Regions from separate parts of the Homo sapiens genome. Here regions 1, 2 and 4 are each reported to be linked to region 3. Evidence: microRNA targets listed by miRTarBase, many of them from high-throughput screens and not tested one by one. Region 3 holds a microRNA gene; each other region holds the end of a gene's coding sequence.

Region 1 (4,336 bases), not on the chromosome of region 3:
TGGCAGGGCTAGGGGAGGCACAGCAGCCCCCAGGTGAGTCCCGCCAGTGTGAGGAGGAGGCTGCCGTCACAGTGGCACCACCACAGGGAAGGGAAGCTCCCCATGGTCACCACAACTGGGTCTCAGAAGCAGAGTGTCCCACAGAAGGGCCCTTTCTTGGGAACCCACAAGTAGCTGCTCAGTCAGGGCTCAGTTGTGTGTAGTTTGTTCATTACCATCCAAGAGCAGTCACAGCTGCTCTAGCTAGTGACTTTAGAAATCTGTTCTGGCTGTGATTGCTAAGCGTCACCTTAAGAACAGCACACTCTTGCCCTGGGGCTCAGGAGCTCGTTTGTCCTGTCTGTCCTGCAGGACTTAGAAAGGGCCGGCAGCAGGAGCAGCAGCTGGGCCGGGCAGGGGAGGTATCGGGTGGGGGCCCTAGTCTTCAATAGTGTCTCATCTCCCTCGCTGGCCTCTGTGGGGCCTGCTGAGAGCAGCCTCGGCAGCAGCACGACTGTGTCCTGTTCCTCGAGCAGGGTCCCTTGCTGCAGGCCACCCTCTGCTGAGGCCTGACCATTGCTCTCTGGCTCCAGGGGTGCAGGAAAAGCTGGGTGTGATGAACAAAGGTGTGGCGTATGCTCTGTGGGACTACGAGGCCCAGAACAGTGACGAGCTGTCCTTCCACGAAGGGGACGCCCTCACCATCCTGAGGCGCAAGGACGAAAGCGAGACTGAGTGGTGGTGGGCTCGCCTTGGAGACCGGGAGGGCTATGTGCCCAAAAACCTGCTGGGGGTGAGCACTCAGGTTACTTACTGGGAAACTAGCTGCCCGTGTCTCTGTACAGCATGCGGTCCTATCCTGCTGTGGGGCTGGGGAGGGAGGCTTCGCTTCTCTGAGCCTCAGCAGCCCCCTCTGTAGAGGGGGAGGTGCCTACTTGGCAGAGCTGGCATGAGGCTCAGGCAGGGCCCCAGGAGGTTCCCCCAGCCATGCTTATGCCATGGAGGCCCGTGCGGAGGCTGAGTGCCCCAGTGAGGGGCCGCTCAATGAGCTCGGTTCATGATGAACTTCACCAAGTGGCCCGGCTCAGCCCACCCACACTTTCCCCAATCTAGAAATCTCTGCAGCCTAGAAATTTCTCCAGTGGAGGGAGAGGTGGGAACGTGCAGGCTGCTAGCTCTGTGTTGGACTTGTGATTCCCTCAGTCCTCTGGCAGAGGGAGCTGCCTCTGCTCTCTTTGTGCCCTGCAGAGCTGCCAGGGGCTTGCTGTTGAGCCAACGTTCTTGGCCAGGCAAACACAGCAGGGAGCCAGGCAGAGACCCTTGCCCAGGGGAGCTTATGACCTTGAGAGCCACAGGCAGTCACAAGTCTTTAGGTGGCATGAAGTGTTGTGAGAAAAATAGGATATTCTGGGGGTACAAGGCACATTTTAAAGAGGGCTGGGTGGGTCTCAGTGTAGAGGTGCAGCTGAGCGTAGGCCTGAGGGACAAGGGTGCTGCACGGCTGTCCAGGGTGGCTGAGGTGAGGAGCAGGGGTCGGGTCTGGCTGGCCCTGCTCCCTGTGTGTGGCTTCCTGTCCTGACGCGGCTCCGTTGCTTCCCAGCTGTATCCACGGATCAAACCCCGACAGCGAACACTCGCCTGAACTTCCTTTTGGAGCACCGCATGGTCTTGCCAGCTACCAGGAGCCACTTAAGAGATTATTGTGCTGTTTTCCAGGAAAGCTGCAGCTAGAAAATGGTCTTAATGGTGCTCACTTTAGCAGACAGCGTCCACAATGTGAATCCTACAGTTTCCAGGTGAGGCCCTTTCTCCAGTTTGCCCATTAACTGGGAGAGGTACTTTCGCCTCCAAGGACTGAATTTTGCCAATTACTATAAATCCAAATAAATACCCACTTTCAAAACACCCACCCCTCTTGCCATTAAGAAGTCCCATAACCCCCGGTTGGTTGCCAGTGAAGACAGAAGCTCTTACTGACTTGGCCCCGAGGCCATCACCCCCTCCAGCAGTGAACACTGTCCGCCGCTGTGAGGCCTGCTCCCCTGCGACCGCCCTGCCCCCCGTCACCGAATCGGACACTCATCCTTTCTCACACTTCCCACACATGATCCTTCTTCCCTTCATCACCAAAGGAGCCTCTGTATGGAAACATGTCCAGTGTTGCTGCCCAGTGTGTATGCCTCCCAGTACCCACTCTGCTCGGCCGCCTTGGGGGTTCCGCTTCCTGTTCCAGTTCACCTAAAGGCTGATTGTGCAGGCCCAGCACTGTGGCTGGACTGCCGCGCCACGGGCACCAGGACCCCTAAGACCAAGTGACAACTGGGAGAGCCTCAGCATATACTCTTCTCCTCCGATCTCACAGCCTGTCATGCTGCTCAGTGTGGTTCTCACCCCTGCAAGCTCAAATTCAGTTCCCTGAATGGAGTCAGGTGCTGGAGGCCGTGGCAGCGGAGGGTGGTTGGGGTTGGGGCTGGGGGTGGACTGGTGTGAGGGCAGACCAGGGCCAGGTAGACGGGGCTGTTTGGTGCCTGAAGGATGGCAGACGCCTGGTGTCAGGAGGGGCCGCCACCAAGGAGCAGCAGCTGGGGCAGAGGAGCTGGGGTCAGGGGCCACCCCTCTCTGCCGATCTCCCTGCCTGGGCTGGCTGTGAGGCCACCTTTGTCCCAGGCCCAGCCTCAAGGCAAGGAGGGCGCTTCACTGAGGTGTGAATTGTACGTACAGGCTTTTTATATACCAAAAGTATTTTTTGACTAGACCATTCAAAGCTACCCGAACTATGTTGGAAATTTTTTTTTTCTCATTAAAATACAGGCCCTTAGGCTCTATTTTTCATGTATGAGTCGTGTGTAATTTATGTAAAAATGTGTGTACAGACTCACTGATGCAGCACTGTAGCCCATCACCTTGGAGCACTGACTGTACATAGTGTGGTGAAGAAAAGTGAACGCCCTTGTAGAGCAGCCCGACCACAGGAGCATGGCCGCTGCCAGCCCAGACGCTGCTGACGCTGTGTAAATGTGCACAATAAACCCGTCTCACCCCGGCGGCTGTGAGTCTTCTTTCTGGACCCAGACTGCGCTGTGGCACGAGGGTTCAGGTGATCTGGACACAGGAAGGCGAGGCCTTGTCCGTATGTTCAAAATAGTTTTTAATCATAAGCTTTATATACAAATTGCTGTACAGTCATCTTAATAAAGTGAAATAGTGAGTGAAAAGTACAAAACACAAAGCCCCCACGTTCCCCTTGGTGAAGTATCAAAGGATCACTCACAGCCCAGAAGCCCCAAATTAGTGACAAGGTAAGTGGACAAGTCTGTGAAACAGGCTAAGGCAAGTGCTGTAAACTGGCTATTAGAGGCGAACAGGCTCCACTGCAGACCAGAAGCCTGAGTTCCTACTGCCCAAACTGGTTCTGTGGAAGAATTAAATGAAATGAATATTGATGGGCCAGAACCTTCTAGTAGACCTGCGAACTCATAAAAATGGTATATATTATGCTAAAAATAGTTTAGCAGTAGTGTAGCTCAGTCTCTCCCACCCCCAATTAAGTATTGACAATACACAAATTCTAAAACATGAAGCTGTTTAAAGCATTAATAAACTGTGAACATATTGCACTAGATAAGTGAACACTCCTGTTTCTCCAAATACATGAGTGAGTTGCATTTCCCAGCACAAGCAGGATTAATCCCTGTGGTACGCAAGGAGCAGGCTCTGCTGTTCCAAGCGACTCAGTCCTGGTGACCACACGTACTCCAAGCTCAGCCCCACGTAGAGTTACTGGTCCCGAGATTCATAGAGGAGCTTGGCAGCCTGCAGATCAGACAAGATCAACACAGTGAGGCCTGCTTGGTCCTGTGCCTGGTGGAGCCAAGCCTGTGTGCATTTCAGGGGAGATGGCGTGGGCACCCCAGCTGAGGGGGAACAGGTTGTGGGGATAGGGGGCAAATGGCAGGACACAGAGCTTCCTCTGGGAAAGGCAAGCTTTTGTCTAAGCCAAAGGGCCCAGCCTCCCTGGCCTGGGCTCAGGTACCTTGTGCATGGCCACTAGCCACGCCACCGCCTGCCTCCTGCCCACAGTCACGTCCTCCACCACTGTCAGCTTCAGCTGGGTCACACCCTCCGTCCCCGGCACTGTATACTGCAGGAACATGCCTGTGGCCCGTGCGTTGCCTCCTGGAGGAGAGAGACGAGGTAAGACGGCCCAAAGGAGGCCCTGAGTGCCCAGGCGGCCACCAGCCCCAAGGCGGTGGCCAGCACATCCTAACCTTGTGCTGCTCCAAGAGTAGCCTGGCAGTGAGGGCTGGTGCTCAGGAGCACCCAGGGAACACCATCTCCTCAGGCCTCTGAGGGGAGA
Region 2 (4,410 bases), not on the chromosome of region 3:
GAGCCCATCCTCAAAATGTAATTTTTCTCTAAAATAGGCAATCTCAAGAGTAAAATATCTTTTCATTTTAATCAAGAAAGCCGAGAGGTAAGGGCTTAGCAGGCTTCTCTTACTGTACAAGTTTCAGTGGATGTATGAAACTTTTATTTTCGTTGCAAAAGGTTTTATGACATTTAAGTCTTATTGGGACATTATTTTTAGTGACTGAAGGGCTTTGAACAAAGGCTTGTCAAGCTCCAATACTGAATGGTTCCATTGTGATTATTTATAAATCAGTTTTATTGTCAGTGTTGAGGTAATCAGAGATTAGCTCATGCCTAAAAGCATAACTAAAAAAATAATGACCCACTGAGAAACAGGATTTTGTTGAATTTTTCTCCTGCTACTTTATCTATAAACAATTTGCAGCCATCTAGCATTGAGAAAAGCTCTCTTAGGTAACATGCTAATCTTGTGCCATTCATAAAAAGCATCAAAGAGAACATTGTTCTTGATTTACCTGCACTGAAAATATATTAATGCTTGCTAATTTGGAATAATAATAAAGATCCTATGAGTAAGCTGTCATTTTTAAATTGACCCCCCAAATTACATGGGGCTGTCAGATGTCAAGAACTTGGGGCTTGCATTCTATCTACATTACACTGTCCCTGGATATTTTTTCGGACATGTGGAGACTAGCCTGAAATAGCACCCAATCATATCAGCAAGCATTCTCCATTTAAGAGAAAATAGAGACACTTTACCTCTGTTGAATTATGATATATGGTGGTTTTCATGGAATCCAGAACGATGAAGCAAGTACTTTTTCTCAGATAAGACTGGCAAGCTGGATGAAGATATGACTAAGTAACTCAGCACAGATTTTCTGAGTTACATAAATAAATGAAGCGAGCTCTACCACCAGCAGCAATTTGTCTCAAAGGGCATTAGTAAGCTCTCTGAAGTAAGAAAAGGCAACAGTGGCAAGAAATCATGTACTTCCTCTAAGTGTGATATACTAGAGAACATCATAGGATAATAATAGAGCTGGTTCAGCCTTTTCCAGGACAGATGTGTGATATTTTCACTAAGTTATGGACAGCACAGTGTTCTCTTAATGCCATCATAAAATTTAGTGCTAAAGGGACCTCAAGGTCCCTGAGAAGGCACTTTGACGGGCAGCTTTGCCAGGTTAAGAGTCCTATAGGCAGGTAACATGAGCAGAGAGGAGGGCACAGCACGGGGTCCATTGGACTCCACATCTCACGTCACACAGTTATGATTAAGACTTCTGAGGCCAGGTGCGGTGGCTCACACCTGTAATCCCAGCACTCTGGGAGGCCGAGGTGGGAGGATCACTTGAGCTCAGGAGTTCAAGACAAGCCTGGGTAACATGGTGAAACCCTATCTCTACAAAAAATACCAAAAAAACAAAAAAACAAAAAATTAGCCAGATGTGATTGCATGTGCCTGTAGTCCCAGCTACTCAGGAAGCTGAGGTGGGAGGATGGCTTCAGGCTGGGAGCGGAGGTTGCAGTCAGCCAAGATCATGCCACTGCATTCCAGCTTGGGCTACGGAGCGAGACCCCCGTCTCAAAAAAATATATATAAATAAATGAAATAAAAAAGACTTCTGTCAAGATAATTCAGTGAGGTAATGGATACGGCTGGCCCATGGTAAGTTCTTAATATGTGTGTGCCCTTAACCTTCCTATTTCTGTTGAACTGAATTTTTCAACCTTATCACTTCTCCCAATATGTGAGATTTCTGTCCTCTGGGCTACAAAGAACTCCTCATCCAAATATGGGAAGTTAGGAATCTTGTCAGCTTGGAGATTTTCCCCAGCTATTCCTCTTAGAACTCACCTATCCCAACCCCCCAGTGTTTGGTCATGCTGAACTGATGGAAGGAGTCTGCACTAACTAGAGCTTGGCTCACTGAATCAGCCGACAACTCAATCTGCCTATTAGGATAATCTAAGACAAAACCTTGTCTTTATCATCAGATGTCCTAGAGCATCAAGGTAAAGAAGTACAGGACTAGGATTATGGGTTGCTCTTTTTATTTTTATTCAAATAAATACAATACTTATGTATAGCCTGATTAATTTCCCTTGTCATATCTCTTTTTTCAGGTTTCAGGCTTAGATTTTTAGTTGTGCCATGCTATGGTCACATCATAACTGTTCTCTAAGTTGAAACAAGTATTTCAACAGGCAAATAGCAAACTCGCCAAAAGACCTGTGGGTCACTTGCCCAAATGAGGCCTACTGAGATGAGAACAAACATCTTTTTTTGGTAAAAACTCTATTTTTATAGTGTATCTTTGGATATAATGCAATTGTTTCTTCCCCTTCTTTCCCAGGCCAGGCACTTGAAAATAAGACATTTCAGGGATGGGCAACCCACTCCATTAACATCCACTGGACTCAATTTCCCAAGAAAATTAAAACAGTGTGAAAGAACACTGCATTTAGCATTTGGCATTTCAGTTAATGAGACTGATAATGACTGAAATATTTTTGATGTGCTAGAAGTCAATTCAGAAATGTAGGACTGGAGAAATTTCATTTGTTCTAAATGAGTCTTGCTTCCCCTGAAATTCCGTCTTTAAGCAGTAACTTCTTTAGTTCGAAATTAGTCTGATTAATATCACCTTTATTGGGAAGAACTATTATCCTCTCTGTGGCTTGGCCTCTGGTATCTACGTATATTAATTTAAATAAAAGTATGGCTTCAACTGATAATTGATGGTTCAGCTTACAAGGAACTAGTTTAGGCAGTCACCCTTCTTACATGAAGCCAGTTAGGGCTAATGCAACCTGTATGGTCAACTTCAGTTTAAAAATCTTAATTCTCATTGTAAGAAAGCAGCCAAATATAAAGCCTTGAGGCAAGTGGGTCTATGGAGTGGCAGATTTGGGAGTGTGGGGCCAGGGCCACGCTGCTCATGCTAATACACCATCAGTACAAACAGTGGCCCAGTTTTGACTTCCTCCAGCTCCAAGAGTCACCTCTGCAGAGTGGCTGTGGCATCTGAGAGAGCAGGGCTGGCACAGAGCCCCTGCCCTGCACGAATATCCCTGTGGAGTCCCCGGGAGGACAGAGGCAAGCCCTGCTTCTTAGCAACTTTCCACACTTCCTGCCTCTGATCCCACTTCCTCTGTAAAGATGCTATTTGGCTCAGCAGCAACCCAAGGGAGTGGGAATAAGGCTTGGTGTGTTGAGAACTGCTCCTGCCTCCTTTTGACAGCCAAGGCTGGCAAGGTTGTTTGGAAATCTGACAAAGAGCAAGTCTACTTTCTACAAGCAAAAAATCCCAACCACTTCACAGTCACTCCATTAAAGTAAAACTAAATCTCTCTGAAAAATAATATGCTTTGAAACCCTCTGTTACATTTATAAAAAGAAAAGGAAAAACAAAAAATTTCAAAGTTAAAAAAGAAACCTTTAAAAATATTGTAGCAATAGCCTTCTTCGTAACAAATATAAAACAGCTTAAGACACTTGGTGACTTTCTTAGTTCATCTGTGGGGGAATGGATACACAATGAGGTTTTACTACTAAAGTTAGCTATTTGGTAAAAACTCTAGGAAGAGTTCCATCAAGAAAATGGTTATTTTGGAAAGACAAGTTATGATTATTTCCAAAATGTCAAAAGAAATAAGAATGTAAACACCATATACTTAAAATGTTAATACAATAATATTAACTCAGTCAAATAAATAAAAGAAAGTGGCACCAAATTTATGGCAATTTTTCAAAACAAAAATGTAGCTTAAATATATTTTAAAATAAATAATTGGTTCAAATACGGACGACCATTCTCAGCACAAACTAACAACATTCAAAATAAAGTGCTATGAGAAAAAGTAGCCCCACAATCTTCAACTTATTCACATATGAACAGAGATACTATCTGGATCTTTAGGTCTGAAATATTCACCACGAGTGAAAGCTAGAGGCCAGGCTTAGGGCCATCTTTTGTCATTTTTCTTTTTTCTTCCAGCGTGTGCTTAAATATTTTCTTCAGGGTGTTGTAAACTGTTGGTCCATTTTCAGAATCAAAATTAACCTGGTGACAAAGAAATTTATATTCAGGACACTGTAACAAGAATTTGAACTAGTTTCTATTTTGAGAGAAGGAGGGGGTGGAGAAAAAAAACAGACTTACAAACAAAACTCTATATAAAATACACATAATAAATTTCACACATTTTATTTGAAAGACTATTAGAACTGCCAACCATGTCAATATCAAACTTATGAATGAAAACCCCAAAATTAAATCTAGTGCCTGGATATTTAGTCTAATTATATACACCCAGTCATGAAGCAAGTCAACAGTGGGTGTGAAGTGAATTTTTTGAGACTAATCATTGATGGTATAAGAGAAAAGTTTCCCATATTAAAACAGCACATCAGCTG
Region 3 (4,410 bases):
TCCCCTGCGGGCGGGGGCGGGGCGCGCTCTGAGACCGTTGGGCGCCCTGAGATCTGGCCCACGTGGCCTCGGGGTTATAAGCCCTGCCCTCCCTGAAGGGAACCCCACTTCGGAGCCTGGAGCACAGGGCGAGCTCTCCTCCGCCCTGCAGCCTCAGGTAAGGATCCGGACCTTCACTGCTGCCCCAACTGGGGCTCCTCAGCTCGGGGCCTCTAGGGGCTTGGGCTGCTGGTCTGGGTGGAGGCGCGTTGGGGGTGTCGAGGAGCTTGGGTGCAAGCCCCATGCGGGAAGCTCAGGGCAAAGCGCCTTGAAACCCTCTCTAGTGAAGGAAGGTAAAATGGCTCCGGGACCCCAGGCGGGGAAAGAGGTGTCCAAGGAGGAGGGCTGGAGAGTAAGGCGGGGATGGCAGAGGGTACGCAGAGGCTGAGAAGTGGGACCAGTGTCTCAAGGGGCGCCAGCCTCTTCCTCCGCCCAACATGGCCACCATTTTTGTTGGGATAGCCTTGGGCTCCTGCCAGGGGAACAGCAGGGCAGTGAGGGAGTCAGGACTTTGGGCTGGTGGGGAGGCCGAGAATCAAGGCTCTGGGGAGTCAGGACTTTGGGGCTGGTGGAGTGGCTGGGGACTGAGGCCCTGGGGGGTCAGGACCTTGGGCTGCTATGGAGGCTGGGACTGAGGCTCTGGGGGAGTCAGGACCTTGAGCTGGTGGGGAGGCTGGGAATTGAGGCCCTGGTGTGTTCAAGACCTTGGGCTGGTGGGGAGGCCAGGGCCTGAGGCCCTGGGGGGTCAGGACCCTGGGCTGTTGGGGAGGCTGGGGACTTAGGCCCTGGGGGGTCAGGATCTTGGGCTGGTGGGGAGGCTGAAGGGTGGGGACTGAGGCTCTGGGCAGTCAGGACCTCACGGTTGGGGTGGACTGGAGACCAAGACCTTGGCAGGGGAGCTGTGGCTGCCTCATTTGGACGCTGGAGGGTGGCTAGCGTGGCTGGAAGCGGCCAGCCAGGGGTTCACAGAACTGAAGGTGAGGCCTCCAGAGGCCCTAGTCTCTACCTGAGTGTCTCTGAAACTGGGGGGATGGGGTGGAGCCTTTAGGGGGAAGGGAAGAGGGAACTGAAGAGGAAGTGGGGGAGGGAGGTAGAGGAGGCAAGTCTGGCGCCATGCTGAGTCACCGCCCACAAGGCCCAGGGCGGGCCCTCGGGGGGCCCTGGCAGGGTTGGGGGGATCTTAGGAAGCCACAAGGAGGGCTGGGGGGCTCTTGGAGCAGGAGTCAGGAGGCCTGGGCAGCCTGAAGAGTACACGCCGACGGACAGACAGACAGTGCAGTCACCCATAAAGTAGAAAGCACTACTAACAGCACTGGAGGGTGTAGTGTTTCCTACTTTATGGATGAGTGTACTGTGGGCTTCGGAGATCACGCCACTGCTGCCGCCCGCTGCCCGCCACCATCTTCCTCGGCGCTCGGGGACCTCGTGTGACAGGTGAGCACCTTACGGCCCCTCCCTACCCTGCCCAGATGCCTGAAAGGCCTCCATGGCTTTCCTGCCCTTCCTGGTTCCGGACAGCTGGGGAAAGGCCACAGCAGCTCCTCTGCTGCCCTGCAGTCTTTGGGGGCGGGGAGGGCTGGACATGTGGAACCCTGATGCAGCCGCAGCGTCAAGGACGAGGAAGGGGTGGGAAGGGATGGTACGTGGAGGGGAATGGGTGGTGGGACCAGGGACCCAATGCTAATAAAGACTGGACTGTGCTTCTCTTTTGTCTGAGACTCTGTTGCTGGGGTGGGGAGCTGAATGCGGGCGGCAGGCACATGGACAGTATGGGCGCACAGAAGGGCTGGGAGGGAGAACCTCTGTCGCTCCTCCAGAAGATACGGGTTTGGCCCTGCCTATGAGATCAGAAGAGGGCTCTGGGCCTGGCCAGGCCACAGCCGGAGGAGAGAAGGGCCTGGGCCATCTGCAGAAAGGGGCAGGGATGTAAGGCATCCTCTCACCTTCTACCCTAGCTCTGGCCCTATCCTGCCCCCCTACATACCCAAACTGAAAGCTGCCTACATCCAGTTTTAATCTAAGAAAGTCTAGGGGGTCCTAGGTCATATAAAAATTGGGCAAAATCCACTGTGGCACATACACAGCATCTTAGACAAGGGCACAGACACTCATATACAAAGCACACACTGAGATGCAAATGCATTTACACACAGAGGCCCCATTCAGTGTGCCAGTAACACACACACAGACACATGTGACATGACTGGCATGACACACACAGGGATTACACACACCCAGGGCACATACATATTCAGTAGTACACACATGCAATGATAGAAACATAGGGCGTGTCTTACACATAGAAGAGCACACACATACAGTGACATTTGCATAATAAACACGGTGGCTCCATACACATACATAGATAGAGACATGTTCATATATCATGATAAATATAGAATACATAGATACATGGTGATATATATATATAAATCAAACCATGTCATTATGCATATTTACATGACGATATGAGCATGTCATATATTGTGTAATCAATTACTACATTGTGCCATATAGTAGCATCCATATCTATATATATCATGATGTGTTGTAATTTATAAACTCATGCAATGATAGCCTCCCATGCACATAACAGCACACACATAGACACAGTGGCAAACAAACATAGATGCAATGACACAGAAACATACATACAGATACACCCAATGTGTTTTTGTTACGTTTTATTATGTGACTCATAGACACATAATAGCACACACATATATACACACAATGGCCCCTTCACATATACAGAAATAGATAATGTCTATTCTATAGATGCATACTATACACACGCATGCGCATAATGGCATGCATATATACTCTGACCTAAACAGCAACACATCATGCAGTGGCGTGCGTGTTGACCTACACACTGCTTTAGGGAAGTGAAGATGTCCACTCCTCCCCATGCACCCCCTACCTCCAGTTCCATTGGCTCTTGCCTGGGTGGAGCCCACAGTCAGGGGCTCTAGGGTTCAGTATCACCGCTGCTATTCTGTGGGGGTGCCACACGAGGGCCCCCGACCTTGGCTGAAACTGGCTTGCCTAATGAGTCCCGGGTTCAGAGTGGAGAGGGGCTGCCTCTCGGGGCTTCTCCCAACACCCCTGGCTCTGGGGACTCTGTCTAGACCCCTGCCACTGCATATAGACTGACTCCTGGCTGAGGGGATTCTCACGTCCTTGTCCCCCAAATTATTTAGCAACAAGATCTAAGGCTAGACAGAAGATGAACTTCCAGGCAATTCGGGACAAAGCCAACCCAACAGGCCATGTGGGCTTCCCTGGTGGCCTGGGACAGCCAGGTTGCCCCCCAAGTGCAATCTGCCAGGAGGAAGCAGAAGGAATTCTCCGTCTATTTCTACCTGTCTCTTTGCTTGTCTTCCCGGTTTCTTTCTCTTGGTTTCTGTCTCTCTCTTTGTTTCATCTCAAGTCCCATCTTTTCTAGTTCTGCCCTTCTCTGTGGCTGGATCTCTGTCATACCCTCCCCCGTTCTGTCTCTATCAGTCTCACCCGATGTAGGGAGGACCATCTGCACCCCACTCGCCTCTGTACTCCGGAAGGTGTGAGAATGTGTGAAGATGAGGGTGGGAGGCCACATGTGGGAGCCCTGGGCTGACATGCCGTGAGAAACCTGCTCTTCCTTCTGTCCCCGACCCTGTCAGCCGGTTCAGCCCACCAGTCCAGCGCCATCACCATGGAAACCAGCAGCCGACTTCCTATTGGTGGGTGGGAGGGGAGGAGGAGGAGGAGGAGGGGAGGGCTGGCTCTTCCCGGCTCACCCCCCCACCCAATTCTGAGGCTCAGCCCTCCTCGGAGCCCACCATCTCGAGGCTCCTGGACTGTAAGGGACCCCTGCAGTCCCCAGAGCAGAGGCCAGCAGGGGCTGAGACTATGAGGCAAGCAGCCCATCGACCCAGGCCTCCTTAGGACCAGCCCAGCCACCCAGCAAGCGAAAGAGCAGCAGCAGAGAGCAGAGCCGGAGATAAAGGACCACAGCGGACCACTGGGGATCACCCCCAGCAGCTCCTGAAGCCTCTGGCCGGGCTGAGGGGTTGCGACAGACGGCCAGACCCACAGACACTGACAGACACACAACGACACCGATGCACACAGCTGCACGACACTGACACACTCAGATACAACCAGGGACAGCATCACATACTGCCACAGCCCTGCAATACAGACACCCACACACACACACACAAACAACTGGCAACTCTGAAATGGGCAGACAGTGACACACAGCACCACCCCCCTCAACACACAGAAGTGGGGGCACCCATCTTCCCAACACATGAGACAGCATTGACCTGCACGGACAGACCTGGAGACACACACACGCACCCTCACCCAGGCGCAGCTGTCGGT
Region 4 (4,410 bases), not on the chromosome of region 3:
GGGGTAGAGATTGCTGCAGCCCCGCATTATAAACACTTGGGTTTAGAAGCCACAGAATACCATTTCCTCCATATTCTATTGGTCAAAGCAGGTGGAGAACCAGCTCTGACCAAGAGGGTAGGGGATCAAACCTTCACCTCTTGATGGGAGAGGCATCAGGCACTGACAAGGAAGGGCAGAATTATTTGGGGCCATCTTAGGGAGGCACTCATCTCGCTGGCAGAGATAGCCGTTCAGCTTGTCTAAGGTGAGACTTCTGGTCTTCATATTTCACAAGCATCCCCAGTGGCTACACCTGGAAGGATACTTCCTTAGGGGGTTTTCATAAGATCTTGGAGAGTAAGACATTTTTTCGTGAGTCTTGCCTCTAGCAGTTAATACTGGAAGAAGCTTACGATGACAGAAAGGGATGGTGGTAAATCCATTGTTACCTCCATGATCATGTATAATTAAAGAACGGTTATAAAATCACCATTGCTTTTGTTAAGCTCAGCAACCATTACATGAAGCTGGAAACCTGGTTCCAGAGTGTTAAGGAGCAAGCTGTGTGTATCGCAGGTTCTGCAGCATCCTGAAACCTCAGGAGAGAGTGAGGGGAGAAGGGTGTGTGTGTGTGTGTGTGTGTGTGTGTGTGTGTGTGTGTGTGTGTGTGGCCTGGTACTCAGAAAACAGGTGCTGGAGCCAGCCTGTGTGGTTTTAATCCCACTTCTGTAGTCATGTGACCTAAGGGAACTGTCTTAACCTCTTTTTGCCCTCATTTCCTCACATACAAAATGGGGCACAGCAAATTTATATGGTTCTTATGAAGATTAAGTCAAGACCTATAAAGCATTAAAACAATGTCTATAAGGCCGTGCAGACACTCAGCATGGCTATTTTTATTTCTACAGAACCATCTGTGGCTTAGTTTTTATACCTCAGTAATCCTCTCTCTCTCTCTCTCTCTCTCTCTCTGTCTCTCTCTATCTCTGTCTCAGAGAAGTGAAAAAGAGAACTGACAAGGATGACAGCAGATCCATTACCAATCTAACCGGGACCAATTCCAAAAAGTCACCACAGATGAAGAATTGTTGCAATGGCTAAATCCCAAACATCCTTGGCCTGTGAAGTCTTCATTTCCAGAATACTGAATTTGTGTGACTTATTTGGCTCTTAACAGAGTGGCACATCCTACTGACACTGTCCTATGGAGAGTTACAGTGCAGGAAACCTGAACCCAGCTCTCAGGTCCCTCTGGAACTTTGGCTCTTCTTTGTTTTGTCTCAGTGAGTGATTTGGGCCCTCTGGCTAAATAGACTAGTCATGTCCTTACAGGTCTTAAAAGATAACATGTAAATGTTTTTAAAATGGTAAAAAAAAAGAAAAGAAAAGAAATCACATGCTCAGATCAAAGCTGTAGAGGAAACTGACATAATTAGATTCATGTGGTAGCTGAATTAGGTTACCCACAAAGTCAGCATTTAAATATTTGATACTAAAGTTCTAGTAAGAAGGGATTCTCATCCTAGCTTTGCTGTTAACTGGCCTTGTGACCTTGGACATGTCACAAGCCCATGTCGGATCTGTTTCTTCATCTGTAAAATGTGCAGCTTGCCCTCAAAGGCCTTGCAGCCCTTGGCACCTCAGATTCTGTGGGAAGCAGTAGGACAGAGAGTGTGGTGGCCCACAGTTAATAATAGAACTATGGTTATTCCTGCTTTTTAATATTGGAGTATTGATTTTTCTCACTTCTGAAATAAGGACAGAATTTGATTAAAAAATGGAAACAGAAATATCTATTTTTTATGTATAAAGAAACATGTTTGAGACAAAAATAGTTGTATATAAAAGGATATTTCATAATCTCAGAATAGTTACAAAGCTCACTGCTTGAATTTGGTGTTAAAAATTCTAATGGAAACATGTAAAGCCACATACTACTGAAAGCACAATGCCCAGGAAAGTTGTCACTCTTCACTTAAGGGAGTGGTTGCCAGGGGCTGAGAAAGGGAGGATGGGGAGTGACTGCTAATAGGTATGTGGTTTCTTTGGGCGATGATGAGAATGTTCTGGAATTGGAATAGTGGTGATAGTTGTATAACTGTTTGAATGTACTAGGAACCACTGAATTGTATACTTTGAAAGGGTGAATTTTATGGTTGTGAATTATCTCACTAAAAAAAATGCTAGTACTTAGAGTGATGTAACATTTTGCAAAATTTTCATTTTCGTATCCCTGCTGATTTCAAACCTTCCCATGGTTTAGAAGCATAACCTGTAATGTAATGCAAGTCCCCTAACTCCCTGGTTGCTAACATTAACTTCCTTAAGTAATAATCAATGAAAGAAATTCTATGCATGGTTTTGAAATAATATCCTTGAAAGAGGAATCACCATTAGGAAAGGTGAGTCAGGGTCCTTTGTTTAATGTGACTAGTGGCTCATCATCACCAGTGACCTGGTTGGGCCTACTCTCCTTCCAGAACCTGCATTGCTTCCCAGACCTCCCCACTGAGATGCCTCTAAGAGCCAAAGGAGTCAACACTTGAGCCTAGGGTGGGCTACAACAAAAGATTCTAATTTACCTTGCTTCATCTAGGTCCAGGCCCCAAGTAGCTTGCTGAAGGAACTTAAAAAGTAGCTGTTATTTATTGTATTGTATAAGCTAAAAACATTTATTTTTGTTGAATCGAAACAATTCCATGTAGCAATCTTTTTTCTGTTCACGGTGTTTGTGATAGAACCTTAAATTCCGCAAGCATCAGTTTTTTGAAAAAATGGGAATTGACCGGATAGTTACAGGCAAAGATTATAAATAGCTACAACATCATTTAACTTTTATAAACATGCCTTCTCTCTATTGAAGACATCTGATATTTTTGCTGGAAAGTTGGATCTATCCTCAGTAACTCTGCCATGAATTCCTGTTTCCTGGTTCCAGAAAAAGAAAAGATTACATTTCTGATCATAAAGAATGTCTTGCATATGGGAAATTTTTCAAAATAAGGGGGGTATTATTTATGTGGCATGGGAAAACTTTTGCCATGGCTGTTTGTCTTAGTGGCATCTTTTGATGACATTGGATCAGATATATGTAGATGCTGATATATGGGACACATGTTTAGGTTTTGGTGCAGTTGCACAAAACTGTGTTAGTTTATATGTTACTGTGTTGCCTTTATTTATTCTCTCCAAAGTGTCTCTTTATATTTGTTTTACAATCTGTGAAAGAGTATACCATAATACAGAAGTATTTTCATAGTCTTTACCTCTGGATTGTCCTGTCAGTATAGCCACGTTGATGAGATTACACCAGTGCCTTTGATGGTCAACCAATCATCTTTAAGTATTTGAGCCCTGATAAATATTTTGGTAACATAATCCAAATTAGAGACTTAGAGCTCTGGTTAGCAATCATGTTTAAAGAGAAGCTTCTTAAAGCTCTGTATGCTGGGAGATTCATGATTATTACCAACGTTTTGATTTCATGAAGGTGTTCTCAAATTTAAAGCACATTTTCAGTAAGAACAAAAATATTTAATGTTTTTATCTTAGACTTGATACATTTGCATATTACTATGGAAGTTATTCACCTTGTCCCTGTTTTTCTTTAAGATATTTTAAAATCATAGTTATACTACAGTCCTTTTTTAAATGTATCCTGATACATTGTAAAATATTTTAATTTCATTGTGGAAAATAATGTTGGATAAGGAGATATTTTTCACTGTTAACTTTTAGCCCATGCATTTTCATAATTTATTTTTTTCACTTGCTGCTTTATATGACATATGTGACATTTGATTATTTAACACTTGATGTGATCTGCATAAACCCAAGTTGCACAACCCTCCTGCTGAAGATAAAATTGAGGTTAAAGATAAAGATTTATTTTCATATTTGTACAGTGATCGGCTTCAGTGATGGTTTTTGTGGGCATTTATTGTGTGTGTGTAAGAAATTTCATATGTATATATTAAGTAGGCCTCTGAGTATTGAATAATTGTTTTATGATTTTGATTTATATGGTTTACATTTTCATTGTGTGGGCCATATTTCGTTTATACTGTTTATTTCTCTTCAAACCTTAATAATTATACCATAAAGTGTAATTTTTATAGCAATGCAAATGTCTAAGGAACTACAAATATTTTCTACGTTGTAAATTCAATAAAGCTTGCTTCCTTTGGCCTTTTGAGTGTTTCCTTCAGCTTTACTGCAGATATCCCTGAAGTAATTTTAATTCTAGGATGTGTCTGCCTGAAACCATACCTCTAAAACACTTGTCTTTTCTGGCCATGGCAAGCCGAGTGTTGGGAGAGAAGAATGCACGCCTGGTATTCAGTGCTGTGGCACAGACAAGTCATCCTGGCCAACAGGGCAGCAGGTAGACCAGCTTGGGACAGGACAGCCAGGAATAGTGAGGCCTCT

Evidence for each region. Region 3 holds the annotated microRNA hsa-miR-142-5p (CAUAAAGUAGAAAGCACUACU, at 1,324-1,344, shown strand). A microRNA usually pairs through its seed, bases 2 to 8, with sites in the 3' UTR of a target mRNA and lowers its output. Matches are read on the target gene's strand: a 7mer-m8 pairs with bases 2 to 8, a 7mer-A1 pairs with bases 2 to 7 and ends in A, and an 8mer does both.
Region 1: miRTarBase lists ZFYVE21 as a target of hsa-miR-142-5p. Seed matches in the 3' UTR shown: 7mer-m8 at 3,171-3,177.
Region 2: the mRNA of PTPDC1 is a reported target of hsa-miR-142-5p. Seed matches in the 3' UTR shown: 7mer-m8 at 3,835-3,841 and 7mer-A1 at 2,862-2,868.
Region 4: miRTarBase lists RASEF as a target of hsa-miR-142-5p. Seed matches in the 3' UTR shown: 7mer-A1 at 3,182-3,188 and 7mer-A1 at 3,758-3,764.

What each region holds. Positions count from the first base shown.
Region 1 is chr14:103,732,439-103,736,774 of GRCh38, reverse strand. ZFYVE21 (zinc finger FYVE-type containing 21) reads right to left here. Exons shown (of 7, transcript NM_024071.4): 6 at 4,013-4,155; 7 at 3,111-3,792. The coding sequence ends at 3,757. PPP1R13B (protein phosphatase 1 regulatory subunit 13B) reads left to right here. Exons shown (of 17, transcript NM_015316.3): 16 at 573-772; 17 at 1,580-3,580. The coding sequence ends at 1,621. Among named protein-coding and RNA genes, the nearest start is that of ZFYVE21, 19 kb to the right of the region's middle.
Region 2 is chr9:94,107,475-94,111,884 of GRCh38, reverse strand. PTPDC1 (protein tyrosine phosphatase domain containing 1) reads right to left here. Exons shown (of 9, transcript NM_001253829.2): 9 at 2,032-4,057. The coding sequence ends at 3,941. Among named protein-coding and RNA genes, the nearest start is that of PTPDC1, 25 kb to the right of the region's middle.
Region 3 is chr17:58,328,217-58,332,626 of GRCh38, reverse strand. MIR142 (microRNA 142) reads left to right here and starts at 1,309; the gene lies at 1,309-1,395. TSPOAP1 (TSPO associated protein 1) reads left to right here and starts at 3,832. Exons shown (of 32, transcript NM_004758.4): 1 at 3,832-4,410. The region is part of intron 2 of TSPOAP1-AS1 (TSPOAP1, SUPT4H1 and RNF43 antisense RNA 1); the gene reads right to left. MIR142HG (MIR142 host genes) reads left to right here and starts at 107. Exons shown (of 1, transcript NR_186557.1): 1 at 107-1,739. RefSeq lists a silencer at 1-99 and enhancers at 210-279, 1,080-1,219, 3,010-3,089, 3,190-3,359, 3,890-3,959.
Region 4 is chr9:82,979,350-82,983,759 of GRCh38, reverse strand. RASEF (RAS and EF-hand domain containing) reads left to right here. Exons shown (of 17, transcript NM_152573.4): 17 at 978-4,170. The coding sequence ends at 1,083. Among named protein-coding and RNA genes, the nearest start is that of RASEF, 82 kb to the left of the region's middle.